Homo sapiens: one gene and its partners. The protein of the gene in region 1 purifies or fractionates together with the protein of each later gene. This does not show direct contact. Each region holds a gene or a part of one and is shown on either strand. Other genes may lie near its edges.

Evidence for each region. The genes of interacting proteins can lie anywhere in the genome.
Region 2: the proteins of LPXN (region 1) and PLEKHH1 purify together in Homo sapiens (co-immunoprecipitation; 3 studies listed by BioGRID and IntAct, with this or other methods). This does not show direct contact.
Region 3: the proteins of LPXN (region 1) and ATXN2 purify together in Homo sapiens (co-immunoprecipitation; 3 studies listed by BioGRID and IntAct, with this or other methods). This does not show direct contact.
Region 4: the proteins of LPXN (region 1) and SPECC1L purify together in Homo sapiens (co-immunoprecipitation; 3 studies listed by BioGRID and IntAct, with this or other methods). This does not show direct contact.

Annotation. Positions count from the first base shown.
Region 1 is NC_000011.10:58,568,492-58,573,654, reverse strand, and holds part of LPXN (leupaxin), read left to right. Parts: intron 1-2,941; coding exon 2,942-3,099; intron 3,100-5,163. UniProt on the Homo sapiens protein: Transcriptional coactivator for androgen receptor (AR) and serum response factor (SRF). Contributes to the regulation of cell adhesion, spreading and cell migration and acts as a negative regulator in integrin-mediated cell adhesion events.
Region 2 is NC_000014.9:67,531,115-67,536,089, forward strand, and holds the start of PLEKHH1 (pleckstrin homology domain-containing family H member 1), read left to right. Parts: upstream 1-2,175; 5' UTR 2,176-2,284; intron 2,285-2,521; exon of another isoform or gene 2,522-2,595; intron 2,596-2,647; exon of another isoform or gene 2,648-2,736; intron 2,737-4,975.
Region 3 is NC_000012.12:111,487,816-111,492,146, forward strand, and holds part of ATXN2 (ataxin-2), read right to left. Parts: intron 966-4,331; coding exon 661-965; intron 1-660. UniProt on the Homo sapiens protein: Involved in EGFR trafficking, acting as negative regulator of endocytic EGFR internalization at the plasma membrane.
Region 4 is NC_000022.11:24,315,000-24,319,330, forward strand, and holds part of SPECC1L (cytospin-A), read left to right. Parts: intron 1-4,331. UniProt on the Homo sapiens protein: Involved in cytokinesis and spindle organization. May play a role in actin cytoskeleton organization and microtubule stabilization and hence required for proper cell adhesion and migration.

The sequences.
Region 1 (5,163 bases):
CATAATAACCTCACAGTGTTGGTGATATGCACACTCATATGAAACAGGAAGAGAAAAGCCTATAACTCATGACCCAGAAAGAAGGGTTTTGATAACTTTGGTTAGCTGGTGCTTCTGAGGGCAACTTCCTACTCTTTGTGGTATGGTTTCTTCTCTCTTATAATCTTTATTGTAAATGGCTTTTTATTTTGAGCTCAGGAGGATCTTTGGCTTCTAGTTAGAGCAAAGCTTAGAAAATAGAAAAGAAAGGGGCTCTAGCATAATTGAAAGATGTAGAATAAAAATTCAAAATTCTCAAATTTGGTGTGGGGTCTGGCTAATAAAAATCTGAGGCAAAAAGTTTTCTTTCTTTTTCTACCTTAGTTTTCTTTTCTTTTTCTTTCTTTTCTTTTCTTTTTTTTTTTTTTTGAGACGGAGTTTTGCTCTTGTTGCCCAGGCTGGAGTGCAATGGCACGGTCTCGGCTCACCGCAACCTCTGCTTCCCAGGTTCAAGCGTTTCGCCTGCCTCAGCCTTCCTGAGTAGCTGGGATTGCAGACATGTGCCGCCATGCCTGGCTAATTTTGTGTTTTTAGTAGAGACGGGTTTTCTCCATGTTGGTCAGGCTGGTCTCGAACTCCCAACCTCAGGCGATCCGCCCGCCTCGGCCTCTCAAAGTGCTGGGATTTACAGGCATGAGCCACCATGCCCGGCCTATTTGTCCTTCTTTTTAAAAAACTTCTATTATAAAGAAATTTAAGTATGCAAAAGTAGAGAAAATAGTTTAATGAATTCTGATATACCCATCAACCAGTTGAAACAATCAGTTCTTCATCAGTCTTACTTCATATATATGCCCACCCATTCCTTTCACCCCTGTAATTATGTTAAAACAATTTCAGATGTCATTTTATCTGTAACTATTTTAACACTGACCTCTAAAATAAATATATATTTATACATATAACTGTAATGCCATTGCCATAACAACAGCCTTAATATTAATTCCTTAATATTGTAAAATACCATTATCACACCTAAAAACTTAACAGAATTAATTAATATTATTAAATATCATTATCACACCTAAAATAAACAGTACTTACTTGATATTATTTAATATCCAGTCAGTGTTCAATAGTCTTGATTGTTTCATTTTTACAGTAGATTTAATGATCCAAATAAAGTTCATACACTGAAATTTATTATAAGTCTCTCAACTTTTTAATGCCATAGGGTCCCACTCATCTCTTTTTTCCCATTACAGTTATTCATTTGCCCGAGAGTTTAGTTCAGTTTGCTTATCTCTAAAATGGTACATAAAAGTCAACATTTTTGATAAATGGATGATTATGAAAGATCTGTATATTTCATTTGTTAAAAAAAAAAGGATTAGATCTCTTCTAACGCCATTAAGAAATATTCATTCCTCCAAAATCTAAAATAAATGAAAAATCTGTTTTTTTTTTAATGACCTGTGAAGTTTATTTTCCTTATCTGAGAACTTTAGATGTAGGCAGGTCCTTAGAAATAATGTAATTATGTGTTTAAAGTTTGAAAGCTAAAATCTGTGGTAAGAAGTCCGCTAGAGATCCACTAATGCATTATTGAGCCATAATTTGAAAAATACTGTTCTAATCAAATTGCCTTGTTATGTAGATGAGGAAACTGCATCAGAGAAGGATGTGACATGCTCAAGGTAACCCAGAGAATATATATAAGACAGGAGACTGGAACTTCTAACTTTTAGTTAATGCAGGGGCTAGGGATCAGATAGCCCAGATTCAAGTCCTGGTTCTGCATTCATGCGCTTAAGCAAATTATTTTTGTCTCTTTCTTGTGATCTACAAAATAAGGACAATAATATCATCTGCCTCAAAGTGTTAGGATGATTAAATGAAATGTGTAAACTCCTGAGCACAGTGCCTGGCATGTGTTAATTTTTATTAATTATTATTTATTTCATTGTAACAGATAGATACTAGTATATAATACTTTTCCAAAAAAAAAAAAAGAAAAAAAACTGAAAGAGTAACAAATCCCAACTATTTAAATTGCAACATCTTACTTGATTTTGCAATATCTCAGTTTTATCCCCAACCATTTTTTCTCTCCACACCCTAAAAGACAGGATACTTATACCTTGCTTTGAAAATTTTGTTACGTGCTCAGGATAATTGTTAAGATTTAAGAAAAAATATCATTAGGATTAAGAATAAGTGTTATTTCCCTCGTATGTTTTGAAAAATGGTAATATAATTGCTTCTATTTTTCTGATAGAAAAAAGCATTTAGGATTTATTTATTTATTTATTTATTTATTTATTTATTTATTTTTTGAGACAGGGTATCACTCCTTTGGCCCAGGCTGCTGGAGTGTGGTGGCGTGATCTCGACTCATCGCAGGCTCACCTAGGCTCAGGTGATCCTCCCACCTCAGCCTCCCAAGTAGCTGGGACCACAGGTGTGCATCACCATGCTGGGCTGACTTTTTTGTATTTTTCATACAGACTGGATTTTGCTATGTTGCCCTGGTCTGGAACTCCTAGGCTCAAGGGATCCTCCCGCCTCAGCCTTCCAAAGTGCTAAGATTATGGGCATAAGCCACTATACCCAGCCCAGTTTTATTTTTTTCTAATTAAGGATATTTGTGGGGAATCTACCCTAAATGAATGATGAAAATTAATACCTGTGGTATAAAAAATCAAATTATAGCATGAGACTATGAAATTGAATGCAACCATAGAAAATAAGAAACAAACCACAATTTATGGAGGTGTTAAACATTTCTTGGTAGGATTCACCACATTCTTGAAGTGAAATAAGGAATAAGGGAAAGTATTTGAAAATAGCCATAATTGAAGAAAAGGAGATGAATGTGGGCACAGTGAAGATATTTAAGGAGAAAATGACTGTAGGGATTTAAATATTCTCTGTCATGATTCTCTTGCTTCTTATGGTGTAGATGCCTTATTGGAGGAACTGGAACGCTCCACCCTTCAGGACAGTGATGAATATTCCAACCCAGCTCCTCTTCCCCTGGATCAGCATTCCAGAAAGGAGACTAACCTTGATGAGACTTCGGAGATCCTTTCTATTCAGGATAACACAAGTCCCTTGCCGGTAAATTTTCATTTATTATAGTCCTTAAACATGGATGTTTGAGTGCATTTCTGAAAATTAACAGAATCCCACATAAAATAATATGAAAGGAGAATAATATATCCAAGAAAGAGAAAAAATAATGCCTCAATGTTAATCTAAAGATGTTTTTGGAAAGAGGAAGAGAATTGAGAAAATCATCACAGAGGAATGAGTTTTTGAGAACTAAATTTTTTTTATTTTTTTTATTTTTTTTATTTTTTTTTTATTTTTTGAGACAGAGTCACACTCTGTCTCCAAGGCTGGAGTGCAGTGGCACAATCTCGGCTCACTGCAACCTTCACCTCCCAGGTTCAAGCGATTCTCCTGCTTCAGCCTCCCAAATAGCTAGGATTACAGGCACGCACCACCATGCCCAGCTAATTTTTGTATTTTTAGTAGAGACGGGTTTTGTCATGTTGGCCAGGCTGGTCTCAAACTCCTGACCTGAGGTGATTCACCCGCCTTGGCCTCCCAAATTGCTGGGATTACAGGCATGAGCCATCACGCCCAGCCGAGAACTACATTTTTTCTAATGAGCACATGGTCACAGGCAGAGTATTGCATTCACTGGGGATATTCTGATGTTACTGTGGGGGCATCAGAGATGCCTGTTGCAGTTTGACTGGAATGGTACTCAGGCCAGAGATCACCTGAGGAAGGCCAGGTGGCAGCATAGACAAGTCTTCTCAGGGTGACTTTTTAGGGTCACTACTTCCCAGGTCTTATTTTCTGCTGAATAGATTAGGAGATTCAATTATTAGTTTATATAGAGATGATGAAGCTCTAGGGAACCAACTCAAACTAACCAAATTGACAAGTGATTATATATATATTTTAAAAACCTAGGGCAGGTGCAGTGGCTCAGGCCTGTAATTTCAGCACTTTGGAAGGCTGAGGCGGGGGGATCACTTGAAGCCAGGAGTTTGAGACCAGCCTGGGCCATATGGTGAGACCCCCATCTCTACGAAAAATTAAAAAATGAGCAGGGTGTGGTGGTGCGTGCCTATGGTCCCCGCCACTCAGGTGGCTGAAGCAGGAGGATTGCTTAAGCCCAGGTGGTCGAGGCTGCAGTGAGCTATGATTGCGCCACTCCATCCCAGCCTGGGCGACAGAATGAGAGCTTGTCTCAAAAAACAAACAAACAAAAAAAAAACAAAACTCAGAAATCAAATTTACAGTTAAAGCTATCAAGTAAAACAGCTATATTTACTCATATATGCATTCTCTTCCTATGGATAAGTCTATATGGACGTACATTATAATTAAAAGGTTGCTTGATGAGAATGGAATTAGTGTAAGATGAATTAAGTAGATGCTCTTCATAGCTGGTAATTTTGTACTATGATATTTTGATTCATCATTGTTCCCTGTATGAAATAGCCAGAAGCACAGACCTGAAATTTGAGCTCAGGGGTAGTTTACGCCCTAACTGTTCTTTTCTCCAGACACATACACAATTTTAACGATACGAATTTATCTCTCTACTAGGGAACTATTGTCTTTGTTCTCAGTGTTAGATTATAGCTGTAGGCTCCTAAGTGGTCTCCTGCCCTTTGCCCCACTGCAGTCTGTTCTCAAGCAGCCAGGGTCACCTTTAAAAACTAAAGTCAGACCCTGTCATTCTTCTACTCAAAACCCCAAAATGACTCCCATCTCATTTGGAGTAAAAGCCATAGTTTCATGTTGATCTTTCTGGGGTGACCATATATCCTGGTTTACCTGAAAGAGTCCTGGGTTTATGCTTGTTTTTCTCACATCCTATTAACTTTACTTTTTACCCCAGATCTTCAATTTTATTTAAAGTTTTCTTATCAGTATTTGCATTAAGTAAGCCACTATGGCTTAACAGACCTCCTTCCAGCTTCTTCCATGGTCTCATCTAGCAGCGTATGAAACACATATTCAGTGAACAGTGCTCTTTTTTTTTTTTTTGAGATGGAGTCTCTTTCTGTCGTGCAGGCTGGAGTGCAGTGGTGCAATCTTGGCTCACTGCCACCTCTGCCTCCCAGGTTCAAGTGATTCTCCTGCCTCAGCCTCCTGAGT
Region 2 (4,975 bases), on another chromosome or scaffold:
CTAATATCCAAAGAAAGGGGCTCTAGGGGTGATGGTGGGTATTATAGTCCCAGCTACCTGGGAGGCTGAGGCAGAAGGACTGCTTGAGCCTAGGAGTTCTGGGCTGCAATGAGCTATGATTGCCACTGCATTCTAGCTTAGGCAACAGAGCAAGATCTTATCTCTTAAAAGAAAACAACAACAACAACAAAAGTTGTAACTTGCCCAAGTCACATAGCTAAAAAGTGGAAGAGACATAACTGAAACTCAAGCCTCCTAAATTCCTAATGTAGGGTTCAGTCCACCTCTACCACCCTCCCACAGACTGCCAAGGGGTCCTGCTCAGAGTTGGGCAATGGTGAGATGCACTCTATGGCCCCAAACTCATTGAAAGTAACAACTGAGCTGAAAAAAATGTGGAGTCTCTTCTGCCCTCTACAGAAGTAACCAGCTATAGGGGAGAGCATGCTCCTCCCATTCCACTCTCCATGGTGCGTCTCTTTTCACTATATAACAAAGTTATATTAAATGAGTTCTGGGCCGAGGTGCGGTGGCTCATCCCTGTAATCCCAGCACTTTGGGAGGCCGAGGCAGGAGGATTTCTTGAGTCCAGGAGTTTGAGACCCCACCTCTACTAAAAAAAAAAAAAAATTTTTTTTTTTTTTTTTGCTGGGTATAGTAGCATGTGCCTATAGTCCCAGCTGTTCATGAGGCTGAGATGGGAGGATTGCTTGAGCCCAGGAGTTCAAGTTACAGTGAGCTATGATTGTGCCACTGCAATCCAGCCTGGAGAACAGAACAAGAAGAACCTATGTCCAAAAAAAAAAAAAAAAAAAAAGTGAATGAATGAATTAATGTCTTCTTAGCAAAATCCAGAGAACGTGTTTTTGGGCTTCCTTATGCAACTTCTGGAATGTTGAAGTGGATAGCCTGAGCATTGTCCCACAAAATGGGGCTAATCTATCCCAATCCCCACGAGCTATAAAGCTGTTTGCAAGTTCAGCCATTGAAGTCCCATTGGCCCAGTTAAATTCTCACGTTTGGCCTCCTGCACTACCAGCTTTCCTTAGTGTCTGGGCTCTCAAAACTTCTACGTGAGAATGGCCTGGGGTACTTTAGTTAGAGATTCAGATTCAAACCCAGGGTGGGGGTGTTCTTCATGGTGCCTGGGATGAGTCTTCCAAGGACCATTTGGAGAAACAGGCGCTGATGGTATTTTGCTTCTGTTCAGTCCTTCACTGACAGAGAGCCTGCAGGGTTGAGGAAGAAGGCTCTGTTTTGAAGTGTGGATCCCTCCCTGCAATGGTCTCTATTTGCATCTTCTTTACTCCAGGCTCACCTAGCCAAATGTTGAGTTTTCCAACCCCTCTGGGTATGAGATTGCTTTGGGCGATCTGAGATCTGCAAATGTCTGAGAACGAGGAGCACATGGGCACGCTGATGACTGCCCTGCAAACTGCCTGGCAGCCAGGGTCCTCCTGGGCCCTCCTTTAAAATAACATATACATAAGCCGGCCTGGAGGCCCAGGCGGGAAGATCACTTGAGCTCCGGAGTTCGAGTCCAGCCTGGGCAACATAGCGAGACCAGAAAATAAGCAAGTAAGTTACTCTCTGGGCTGTCGTAACTTATTTTTTCTTTTTCTCCTGCAAATTGCAACTCAGAACATTTGGTCTGCCAGACTGAAATATGGACTTCTGTTCCAAATATCCAGACGTTACAGTTCCCACAGGTGGCCAGGAGAATGCTGGAACCTTTGGCGGAGACGGTCTGGTCTTGTCCCGCAGCCCGCGAGGGTCCCCCGCTATTTGGGGTCAAGCAGATCCCCGGGGCGCTCTGGCCACCCCTTGCGGCAGCTGGTGCGGCCTCCTCGGAGAGCTCCGGGCCGGCGCCCGGGACACCCCGCCGCCCTCCCTGCCGCCCCAGGGACGAGCCCAGCGGTGCGGAGAAGTGGGAGGCTGGAGCCTGCTGAGGTCATTTCCTGTGCCTCTCCGCGAGCTGCCTGGAGAGCTGAGCCCAGCGCTCTGCCTTTAAGGAGCGGGCGGGGAGCCGAGGGGAGGAGGGCGCCCGGCGGAGCGTTGAATGGGGCGCAGCAAGGCTCGGCCGGGCTTTGTGCAGCGAGCCCGCGGGCACCCCTCCCGCTCCAGCCTCGCCCCGCCCCGCAGCCCACGACCCCTGCTGCCGGGGAGGGGAGAACCGGCGGCAGCCCGGGACTCCGGCGAGAGCGACGCAAGGTCGGCTGCGGCGGCGGCCCGAGGGCGCCCGTGTGCCCAGTGCGCGGCGGGGACGGCCGCGAGCTCGCTGGAGGTGAGCGACCCGCGCTCCCGCCGCTGTGGTGGGCTGGGGCTGCGCCGCGGCGGAGGGCGTCAGGCTGCGCGCGGGGGACGGCCCCTCGGGCCCAGAGGACGATCCGGAGCAGGTGCCTCCCTACCTGGAAGCGAGCTCCCAGCGGCGGGGAGCGCTGGAGCGCGGGTCTGGCTTGGGAAGCCGGGCGCCCCAGGGGACTCGCGCCGCGAGGCCAGGAGGAGCCTCCCCCGGGAGTACCTGGACTTGGGGATCGGTCAGATCCAGCCGCTCCTGGGAAGGGCCCTCGGAGCGGACGTGCAGGCTGCCACCTTGCTATCGGTGCTCGCTCCCTTTCACCCCTTCCCGCACCCCTCCCCATCTCACCTCAGGTTATTTCTTCTGTGATTTCTGAGTGTTGTCTTTGGGACCCTATGGCTCAGGCTCGACTCCTAGGAGCAGGTCATTCAAGCAGAAAAGAAAACAGGTTGGGCGCCGAATGACACAGAGCATTGTGTCCTAGGAGTCTTAGCGAGGACTCGGTCACCAGGAACCAGGGGCCTTAGTGGGGGTGGCAGAGGCGGTGAAGAGCCTCATCTGGAAGGAAACTCCTCTCCTTGTGGGATTTCTGCTTGCCAGGATATCTCCTCCATAGCTTTTACTATGAATCCACCTCATAAAACTCTTCCAAGACAGAGCCTTGGTTCAGGTAAAACACTTGAAAGACCATTTAAAAAATTCAGTGGGAGAATTATCAGTTCCTTCATCAAACTGTTTGGACTGTCTTCTATGTGACAGACACTGTGTATAGGGCTAGTACCATCACTGAACGCTTTATAGAACATCGGTATTAGTGTTTCTGCATATTATTGGCCCCATTTTTCCAAAGGAGGAAGCTGGGACTCTGAAAAGTTGTGATTTAGGCCAGTTGCAGTGGCTTATGCCTGTAATCCCAGCACTTTGGGAAGCCAAGGCAGGAGGAGAGCTTGATGCCAGGAGTTCAAGACCAGCCTGGGCAACATAGGGAGACCCTGTGTCTACAAATAAATAAAAATTTAAAAATTAGCTGGGTGTGGTGGTGTGGGCCTGTAGTCCCAGCTAACTTGGGAGGCTGATGATCCTGTCTGTTAAAAAAAAAATTGTTGTGATATGCCCATGGTCACATAGCTAAAAAGTGGAAGAGCCATAACTGAAACCCAAGCCTCCTAAATTCCTAACGTATGGTTCAGTCCACTTCTACCACCTTCCCATAGACTGCTGAGGGGGCCTGCTCAGAGTTGGGCAATTGTGGGGTGCAGCCTGTGGCCCCAAACTCATTGAAACTAACAACTAAGCTGAAAAAATGTGGAGCCTCTTCTGCCCTCTTCAGAAGTCACCAGCTGTAGGGGAGAGCATGTTCCTCCCATTCCTGATAGAAAAAAAAAAATCCAAAGAAATGTCTGGCAATTTAAAGTGTACATCATTTACCCCTAAATTCCATTTTCTGGGACTTTATCCTTCAGATATACTCTGATGTATATGAAATGGTGTACATCATTGAATATTCATTGCAGCATTGTTTAGCAAAAGGTTGGAAACAATCTAGATGTCCATCAATAAGGAACCCTTCAATAAGATCATGTAAAAGCCACACGATAGGATACATTAAAGCTGTTATAAAGCGTGCAGAGAAAATGTGGCAGATATATACTTTGATGTAGGAATATCTCTAAGTTATATTGTTGAGTACAGTGTGTATGGTGGGCCACGATTTTTGGGTGGGTGTGTGAATGCCACATACATATGAATGCCTGTAGATGCTCTGAATATCTCTGAGAGAACACACAGAAACCTGTAACAGTGGTTGCCGCTGGGGAGAACTATGGCTGAAGTACAGGCATGGGAAGAAGCCTTACTTTGCACTATATACCCTTTTGTTCAATGTTCTAAAATAACTTTAAAAATCATATGACCTCCTCTCCAGATCTCCAGAGTTAGATCTGGTAGTGAGCACATCTTTTTTTTTTTTTTTTTTTTTTTTTTTTGAGCCAGAGTCTCGCTCTGTTGCCCAGGCTGGAGTGCAGTGGTGCAATCTCAGCTCACTACAACCTCCGCCTCCAGGGTTCAAGCAGTTCACCTGCCTTAGCCTCCCAAGTGGCTGGGATTAACAGGCATGCGCCACCACACCTGGCTAATTTTTGTATTTTTAGTAGAGACAGGGTTTCACCATGTTGGCCAGTCTGGTTGAACTCCTGACCTCAGGTAAGCCGCCTGCCTCCACCTCCCAAAGTGCTGGGATTACAGGCTTGAGCCACCGTGCCCAGCCTCGTGAGCACATCTTTGGGCCACATCTCCTTTTATGTTCTAGATGCTATTGGTTTGCCTTTGTTTGCTGATTACAACAATAACAGTCATTTATTGAGTACTTAGTGTGCACCAGGCTTTTGTAATATCTCCTTTAATTCTCAAAAAGCCCTGCATGATGTGATATATGAAATGGCCATTTTGAAGGTTGGAAAATGGTTAAATGACGGTTTCATATGGTTCAACCAAATATTATTGTCCTGATTTTCAAATATTACTGCCCTCAATTTCAGAATGGAACTGAGTCTCAAAGAAGTTAAGCAAATGGCTTAAGGCCACAGGATTATTTAGTGCCTGAGCTCGTATTCAAACCCAGGCCTGTCAGTGCCAGAGCATGGGATCTTAGGTACTAAGCTGTTTCTCTTTGCTGTT
Region 3 (4,331 bases), on another chromosome or scaffold:
GGAAAAAGTCATGGCTGTAAAAAAAAATTGCCTCAAATCAAGAATAAGCAGTCCCCAATTTATCAATAAGCTGCATTCCAAAACTTCAGCTTTAACTGGATTGTTTGGTACCCAAACACCTAAGTCAATGGTAGTTAAGTTCTGAGGTTAGCCCCTAAAAGTCCATTTAATTAATATACTGAATGTGCAGAATTAAGTCTATCTTAACAAATCTAAACATTAACTAAAACACAGTTTCTGATGAAAAATATTTTGAATTCCAAGTAGAAGCACCGCATGCTTCTCTCCTTGACAGTGGCAGTTTTTCAACCTAGCAGCACAGTGAGGGTGACTAATGAGTGGAATCCAGTAAAGATAGGTCCCCTGAATTGATAATTTTTCAACTCCTGTTCATTTACAGAAAAACTTTTCTTAATTTATGCCTTGTTTTTCTAGCCCTGGGGTACAAAAAAGGGGAAGAACAGAAGAGTAGCACAGGGTGCAATAACCTCATTTACTTAAGATGTCATTTGTTTGGACTAGCTGTTTGTAAACTAAGGGCAATGTATAAAGTAGTCTAAAAGTCCAGATGGATTCTTCACAGTTGGAAGGACCTAAATGCCTTTAAAAAAAAAAAAGTTAATTGAGTAACAGGATGGTCTAAGTTCCAGGTTTACTCACTCAGCTGCGTCTTTCTTCTCTTCCTTATCGTCTTTCTCTTGTTTACATGCTGGGCTGGAAGTCTGAACCCCTTGGGAAGTGACCTCAGGTCCCCTCTTGTGCTCCGTGTTACTAAGTATTGAAGGGGAAATGCTGGGGCTATTCGGCTTGCTGCTGCCACTGGTACAGTTGCTGCTGCTATTTTCAATGAAAGAATCCTTAGCACTTGGTTCAATTTTGTCTTTGATCAAATCTCTTGATTTTTCTCCCTCTCTATTTTTGTTTAGTAGTTGATCCATAGATTCAGAAGTAGAACTTGGCTGTAACTAAATAAAGGAAACAATTATACTTAAATATCTTAAATAACTTTAGTAATACATTTTTGCCATGAGCACAAGCTACGTAATATTAACTATACGCATGAAATGTTCTGAATAAGGCTTTTTTCATACTTTAAGAGTAATGCTTTTACTATAAACTAACAATAACAGAGTACCTATATAGCACAACCACAGTCACCAAAGCACTCAAATGTCCTAGCCTCTAAAGTTCAATATTTACTGAGTGCTTACCACATGTCAGAAATTGTGCCTGCTGGGTGAGAAAAATATGAAATAGTTTCTATCCTCTTATACTTGTCATTTAAATAAGATCAGACACTTCACAATAAAATGAGTAAATGCTAAGAGAGTCTATAGAAAAAGCAACCTATAAAAAAGAAAGGTTTCTCAGTAAAGTGTCAGCTAGTCTAAGGTGTGAAAGAAGTTTAGGAAAGGTGTTGGGATGGAGAATAGTCTAAGTAAAAGGAAGAGTATGTTTAAAAATCCAAAGAAAAGGGAGAAGCTGGCTCTATCACATAAAACAATAGCACCAATGGGGGCCGGGCACGGTGGCTCACGCCTGTAATCCCAGCACTTTGGGAGGCCAAGGCAGGCGGATCACGAGGTCAGGAGATCGAGACCATCTTGGCTCACACGCTGAAACCCCATCTCTACTAAAAATACAAAAATTAGCCAGGCATGGTGGCAGGCGCCTATAGTCCCTGCTACTCGGGAGGCTGAGGTAGGAGAATGGTGTGAACCTGGGAAGTGGAGCTGCAGTGAGCCAAGATCACGCCACTGCACTCCAGCCTGGGTGACAGAGCGAGACTCCGTCTCAAAAAAAAAAAAAAAGATAGCACCAATGAGCTGGGCACAGTAGCTCATCACTGTAATTCCAGCCCTTTGGGAGGCTGAGACAAGCAGACTGCTTAAGCTCAGGAGTTCAAGACCAGCCTGGGCAACATAGTGATACCCTGTCTCATTTAAAAAATAATAATAAAATAAAATAAAATAACAAAAATAAAGAAGTAAAGAAAAGCACCAATGGCTGGACCAAGGGTGAGACACACATGTACAAGTGAGTCAGAAAATGATAGACTCGTCAAAAGGAATATGACAATAAAGGAACTTAAAAGCTATGTTCAGGGCTGCGTGCAGTGGCTAACACCTATCATCCTAGCACTTTGGGAAGCCAAGGCAGGTGGATCACTTGAGGTCAGGAGTTTAAGACCAGACTGGCCAACATGGTGAAACTCCGTCTCTACTAAAGATAAAAAAAAAAAATTAGCCAGGCGTGATGGCACACGTGTAAATCCCAGCTACTTGGGAGGCTGACATATGAGAATTGCTTGAACCCAGGAGGCGGAGGTTGCAGTGAGCCAAGATCACACCACTGCACTCCAGCCTGGGTGACAGAGCAAGACTCCATCTAAAAATTAAAAAAAAAAAAAAAAAAGTTTTAAAAAGCTACGTTTAGGACTTTGGCTTTTAATTCTCAGGGCAAATGGGCAGTCTATACGGAATTTTAAGTAGGGTAGAGTACTGGGCAGATTTATAGTTCAGAAAGGTGAACACAGCAGCTTTGTGTGAAATGAACTGGAGGGAGGCTAATTAGGATGTGGAGGGACCGTCATGGAGGCTGGACTAAGCGCTGGGCCTAGTCAGCTTGGAAGGTCATTAAGTAGGTGAATTCAGAATGAGACCTGACTGTACATATTGGTCAGTTAGACATTCTAAACCCCTAAGTAAAAAAAGGAGATGGCAGGGGAGAAGAGACAGAGCATGGTGGCCAAACAGAACCTTCCAGTGATCATCCCCAACAAGGAGCACCAAATTGAACAACTATCCACACAAGAAAGCACCTTCATAAGAACCAAAAATTAGGTAAGCGATCACAGTACCCAGTTTTGACATCCTATCAAGGAAAAAGACACCAAAAAAGATAAGGAAGATAGTCTTGAACTGCCCCTCCAACACCCCTGACATTCCCCCACAATGCAGTGTGGGGTGGAGAAAGAATCTGTGTGCTCGGGGGAGAGAGAGAGAAATGACTGTGGGATTTTGCATTGAAACTCAGTGCTGCCCTGTCACAGTGGAAAGCAGCATAGGACAGAATTCAGCCAGCACCCACAGAGGGAGTATTTAGACTAGCCCTAGTCAGAGGGGAATTGTCCATCCCAGTGATTAGAATCTGAATTTCGGGCTGGGCACTATGGTCTGTAATCCCAGCACTTTGGGAGGCCGAGGCGGACGGATAACCTGAGGTCGGGAGTTCAAGACCAGCCTGACCAACATGGAGAAACCTCATCTCTACTAAAAAACAAAAAAATTAGCCAGAGGTGGTAGCGCATGCCGGTAATCCCAGCTACTCAGGAGGCTGAGGTAGGAGAATTATTTGAACCCGGGAGGCGGAGGTTGTGGTGAGCTGAGATTGCGTCACTATACTCCAGCCTGGGCAATAAGAGCGAAACTCTGCCAAAAAAAACCAAAAGAATCTTAATTTTGGTAAGCCCCACCACCGTGGGTAAAGTCCTCTGGGGTCCTAAATAAACTTGAAAGGCAGTCTAGACCAGAAGGACTGCAATTCCTGGACAAGTCATGGTACTGTGCTGGGCTCATAGTCAGTGGACTTGGGGTACATGTGACCCACTGAGACACCAGCTAGGGTGGCCAAGGGAGTGCTTGTGCCAGCCTTCCCCCAACTCCAGGTACCACAGCTCACAGCTCTGGGAGGAGAGGGAAGAGTAGGGAGGACTTTGTCTTGCAATGTGGATACTAGTTCAGCCACAGTAAAATAAAGCACCAAGCATAGTTCTGAAGCCTCAATTCTAGGCCATAGCTCCCAGATGACATTTCTAGACATATTCTGGACCAGAAGGGAACCCATTGCCTTGAAGGGAAATACCTAGTCCTAGTAGGATTCACCACCAGCTGACTAAAGAGCCCTTGTGCCTTGAATAAAAAACAAGGTGCCATGTCGTATTGTGCCAGCTTCAGATATGACCCCGCACATTCACAGCTGTGGTGTCCATGGGGAGACCCACCTGCTTGAGGTGAGAGAAGAGTAAAAAGGACTTTATCTTGCAAGTGGGTGCCAGCTCAGCCCCAGTACAATAAAGCAGATTCCTAAAGCTCCCGATCCCAGGCCCTGGCTCCTGGGCAGCATTTCTAGACACACCCTGGGCCAGAAGGGAACCTGCTGCACTGAAAGTAAAGACCCAGTTCTTGCAGGATTCTTCACCTACTGACTAAAGCACCCTTGGGCCTTAAATTAACATCAGTGGTGGCCAGAAAATAGCTGCCACAGGCCTTGGGTGAGACCAAGTACAGTTCCAGTGACGGTGGCCATGGCAGTGCTTGTGTCACCCTTCC
Region 4 (4,331 bases), on another chromosome or scaffold:
TCATATTTTACTTCTTACGTTTATAGAAAAAGAACTTTAAAACTTCTAGTAAACATAAGATCAAGTGTTTGTAATAAAGCTTATGAAGGCAAATTGTAAAAATTACATCAGATCCTTTTCTGTCATCGTAATTTAGGCTCTTAGCCCCTCTTGTGTGTATTAGACTCTCCTAGCCCAGGATTACCTACTGTCTTCATTTTTGCTTTGGCTTTATGCAGATTCTTCCTTCCATTTCAGATTGGGCCTCCCTGTTAATGATAATAGGTGCGATTAACAGGAAGGAATATTGAAGTCCTTGCTTTCTGATTTACAGGCATGATTTCATTTTATCCTCACCTGTAGTCCTGTGAGAACTAGTATCCTCATTTTAGAGATGAGAAAGCTTAAGTGTCTTGGCCAAGGCCATGCATTCATTTGCTCAGTAAATATTTATTGGGGATCTGTTTTGACAAGGCCACAAGGCTGGTGGTGAGGCAAGGTCTTTTACTCCCAAGCCTGGGGTCATCACCACATTTAACATTGTAGCTTATGTGGTAGGAAGGAAATTAAATACTCTTGCCATTTGCATGTCTTCCTGTTTCCTGCCTTTAGAATTGTACTGGGAGAGATTCCATGTGTTTGTATACTTAGTTTCTTACTGACTGATGCTACCTGACCTCAGGATTCAGTTATCACCTCTCTGGATTAGCTGCCCCAGTATGGCTTTGTACGTTTATTTTATTTTGCTGGGGATGTCATAACAAAATACCACAGACTGGATGGCTTAAGCCACAGAAATTTATTTTCTCAAATCTGGAAGCCAGAAGTCTGAAATGAGGGTGTTAGCAGATTTACTTTCTCCTGAGATCTCTTTTTTGTCTTGCAGATGGCTGCCTTCTCTGTGTCTTCCCTCTGTGTGTGTGTCCTCATCTCCTCCTCTTACAAGAACGCCAGTCATGTTGGATTAGGGCCCACCCTAATGACTTCATCTTACGTTAATTACCTCTTTAACTTCATTATCCTGTCTCCAGGTGCAGTCACATTTGAGGTTTTGGGGTTAGGGCTTCAACATATTAATTTTGTGTGTTTTGTGCGGGCACAGTTCAGCCTATAACAACATCCTTATTCTTCAGTTCATCTGCTCTACCTTTACCTCCTCCAGTGACTTTCCTAAGACTGTTTGATTTCCATGTATCAATTCACTTGTCTTTACCTCAGATTATTCTGTCTACTCATTACAGTAATCCAGAGAAGAATTTTTCTTCTTTTATCTTTCAAACATGAACAGATTTTCTTTTTATTTATTTATTTATTTATTTATTGATCATTCTTGGGTGTTTCTCGCAGAGGGGGATTTGGCAGGGTCACAGGACAATAGTGGAGGGAAGGTCAGCAGATAAACAAGTGAACAAAGGTCTCTGGTTTTCCTAGGCAGAGGACCCTGCGGCCTTCCGCAGTGTTTGTGTCCCTGGGTACTTGAGATTAGGGAGTGGTGATGACTCTGAACGAGCATGCTGCCTTCAAGCGTCTGTTTAACAAAGCACATCTTGCACCGCCCTTAATCCATTTAACCCTGAGTGGACACAGCACATGTTTCAGAGAGCACAGGGTTGGGGGTAAGGTCACAGATCAACAGGATCCCAAGGCAGAAGAATTTTTCTTAGTACAGAACAAAATTAAAAGTCTCCCATGTCTACCTCTTTCTACACAGACACGGCAACCATCCGATTTCTCAATCTTTTCCCCACCTTTCCCCCCTTTCTATTCCACAAAACCACCATTGTCATCATGGCCCATTCTCAATGAGCTGTTGGGTACACCTCCCAGACGGGGTGGTGGCCGGGCAGAGGGGCTCCTCACTTCCCAGTAGGGGCGGCCGGGCAGAGGCGCCCCTCACCTCCTGGATGGGGCGGCTGGCCGGGCGGGGGGCTGACCCCCCCAACCTCCCTCCCAGACGGGGCGGCTGGCCGGGCCGAGGAGCTCCTCACTTCCCAGTAGGGGCGGCCGGGCAGAGGCGCCCCTCACCTCCTGGACGGGGCGGCTGGCCGGGCGGGGGGCTGACCCCCCCACCTCCCTCCCGGAGGGGGTGGCTGGCCGGGCGGTGGGGCTGACCCCCCCACCTCCCTCCTGGACGGGGCGGCTGGCTGGGCGGGGGGCTGACCCCCCTACCTCCCTCCCGGACGGGGCGGCTGGCTGGGCAGAGGGGCTCCTCACTTCCCAGTAGGGGCGGCCGGGCAGAGGCGCCCCTCACCTCCCGGATGGGGCGGCTGGCCGGGCGGGGGGCTGACCCCCCCCACCTCCCTCCCGGACGGGGCGGCTGGCCAGGCGGGGGGCTGACCCCCCCCACCTCCCTCCCGGACGGGGCGGCTGGCCGGGCAGAGGGGCTCCTCACTTCCCAGTAGGGGCGGCCGGGCAGAGGCGCCCCTCACCTCCCAGATGGGGCGCTGGCCGGGCGGGGGGCTGACCCCCCAACCTCCCGGACGGGGCGGCTGGCTGGGCAGGGGGCTGACCCCCCCACCTCCCTCCCGGACGGGGCGGCTGGCCAGGCAGAGGGGCTCCTCACTTCCCAGTAGGGGCGGCCGGGCAGAGGCGCCCCTCGCCTCCCGGACGGGGCGGCTGGCCGGGCGGGGGGCTGATCCCCCCACCTCCCTCCCGGACGGGGCGGCTGGCCAGGCGGGGGGCTGACCCCCCCATCTCCCTCCTGGACGGGGTGGCTGCCCGGCAGAGATGCTCCTCACTTCCCAGACGGGGTGGCTGCCGGGCGGAGGGGCTCCTCACTTCTCAGACGGGGCGGCTGCTGGGCGGAGGGGCTCCTCACTTCTCAGACAGGGCGGTTGCCAGGCAGAGGGTCTCCTCACTTCTCAGATGGTGCGGCCGGGCAGAGACGCTCCTCACATCCCGGACGGGGCGACAGGGCAGAGGCGCTCCCCACATCTCAGATGATGGGCGGCCGGGCAGAGACGCTCCTCACTTCCTAGATGGGATGGCGGCCGGGAAGAGGCGCTCCTCACTTCCTAGATGGGATGGCGGCTGGGCAGAGACGCTCCTCACTTTCCAGACTGGGCAGCCAGGCAGAGGGGCTCCTCACATCCCAGACGATGGGCGGCCAGGCAGAGACGCTCCTCACTTCCCAGACGGGGTGGGGCCGGGCAGAGGCTGCAATCTCGGCACTTTGGGAGGCCAAGGCAGGCTGCTGGGAGGTGGATGTTGTAGCAAGTCGAGATCACGCCACTGCACTCCAGCCTGGGCACCATTGAGCAATGAGTGAAGGAGACTCCGTCTGCAATCCCGGCACCTCGGGAGGCCGAGGCTGGCAGATCACTCGCGGTTAGGAGCTGGAGACCAGCCCGGCCAACACAGCGAAACCCCGTCTCCACCCAAAAAATACGAAAACCAGTCAGGCGTGGCGGCGCGCGCCTGCAATCGCAGGCACTCGGCAGGCTGAGGCAGGAGAATCAGGCAGGGAGGTTGCAGTGAGCCGAGATGGCAGCAGTACAGTCCAGCTTCGGCTCGGCATCAGAGGGAGACCGTGGAAAGAGGGGAGAGGGGAGAGGGAGAGCCAGATTTTCTTTTTTATAAGGATTTTTGATTTAGATAAGGATGTGGTACCACTTGCAGAACTAGGGAAAGGAATTAATGTTGGGGAAAAAAGTTACCCCAGCCAGGTGCGATGGTGCACGCCTGTAATCCCAGCACTTTAGGAGGCCAAGGTGGGCAGATCACTTGAGCCTAGGAGTTCAAGACCAGCTTGGGCAACATGCCCAATGTGGTGAAACCCCGTCTCTACAAAAAATACAAAAATTAGCTGGGTATGGTGGCGTGTGCTTGTAGTCCTAGCTACTCGGGTGGCTGAGGTGGGAGGATCACCTGAGCCTGGGAGGTAGAGTTGCCGTGAGCTGTGATGGCACAACTGCACTCTAGCCTGGGTGACAGAGCCTCAAAAAAAAAAAAAAAGTTATGCCATCTTTTTCCATTTTTGGCCTCCGTATACAGTTGTTTATCCCAGTCTGGTTACTCTTGCCTTTGATATCTGTCACAGATTTCTTGCCTCTTCTCTGTTCTTACTGCCGCCCCTGAATGTGGGACCTCTTTTACCTCATTGATCTACCTGCCCACATTCCTCCTCTGCTGCTCTGCTTTCTTCCTTATGTATTCCACTTAGAATCTGTATTAGTCCATTCTCATGCTGCTGTAAAGAACTGCCCCAGACTGAGTAATTCATAAAGAAAAGAGGTTTAATTTACTCACAGGTCCACAGAGATGGGGAGGCCTCTGGAAACTTAGAATTATGGTGGAAGGGGTAGCAGGCACATTCTTCTCCACATAGTGGCAGGAAGGAGGAGAATGAGAGC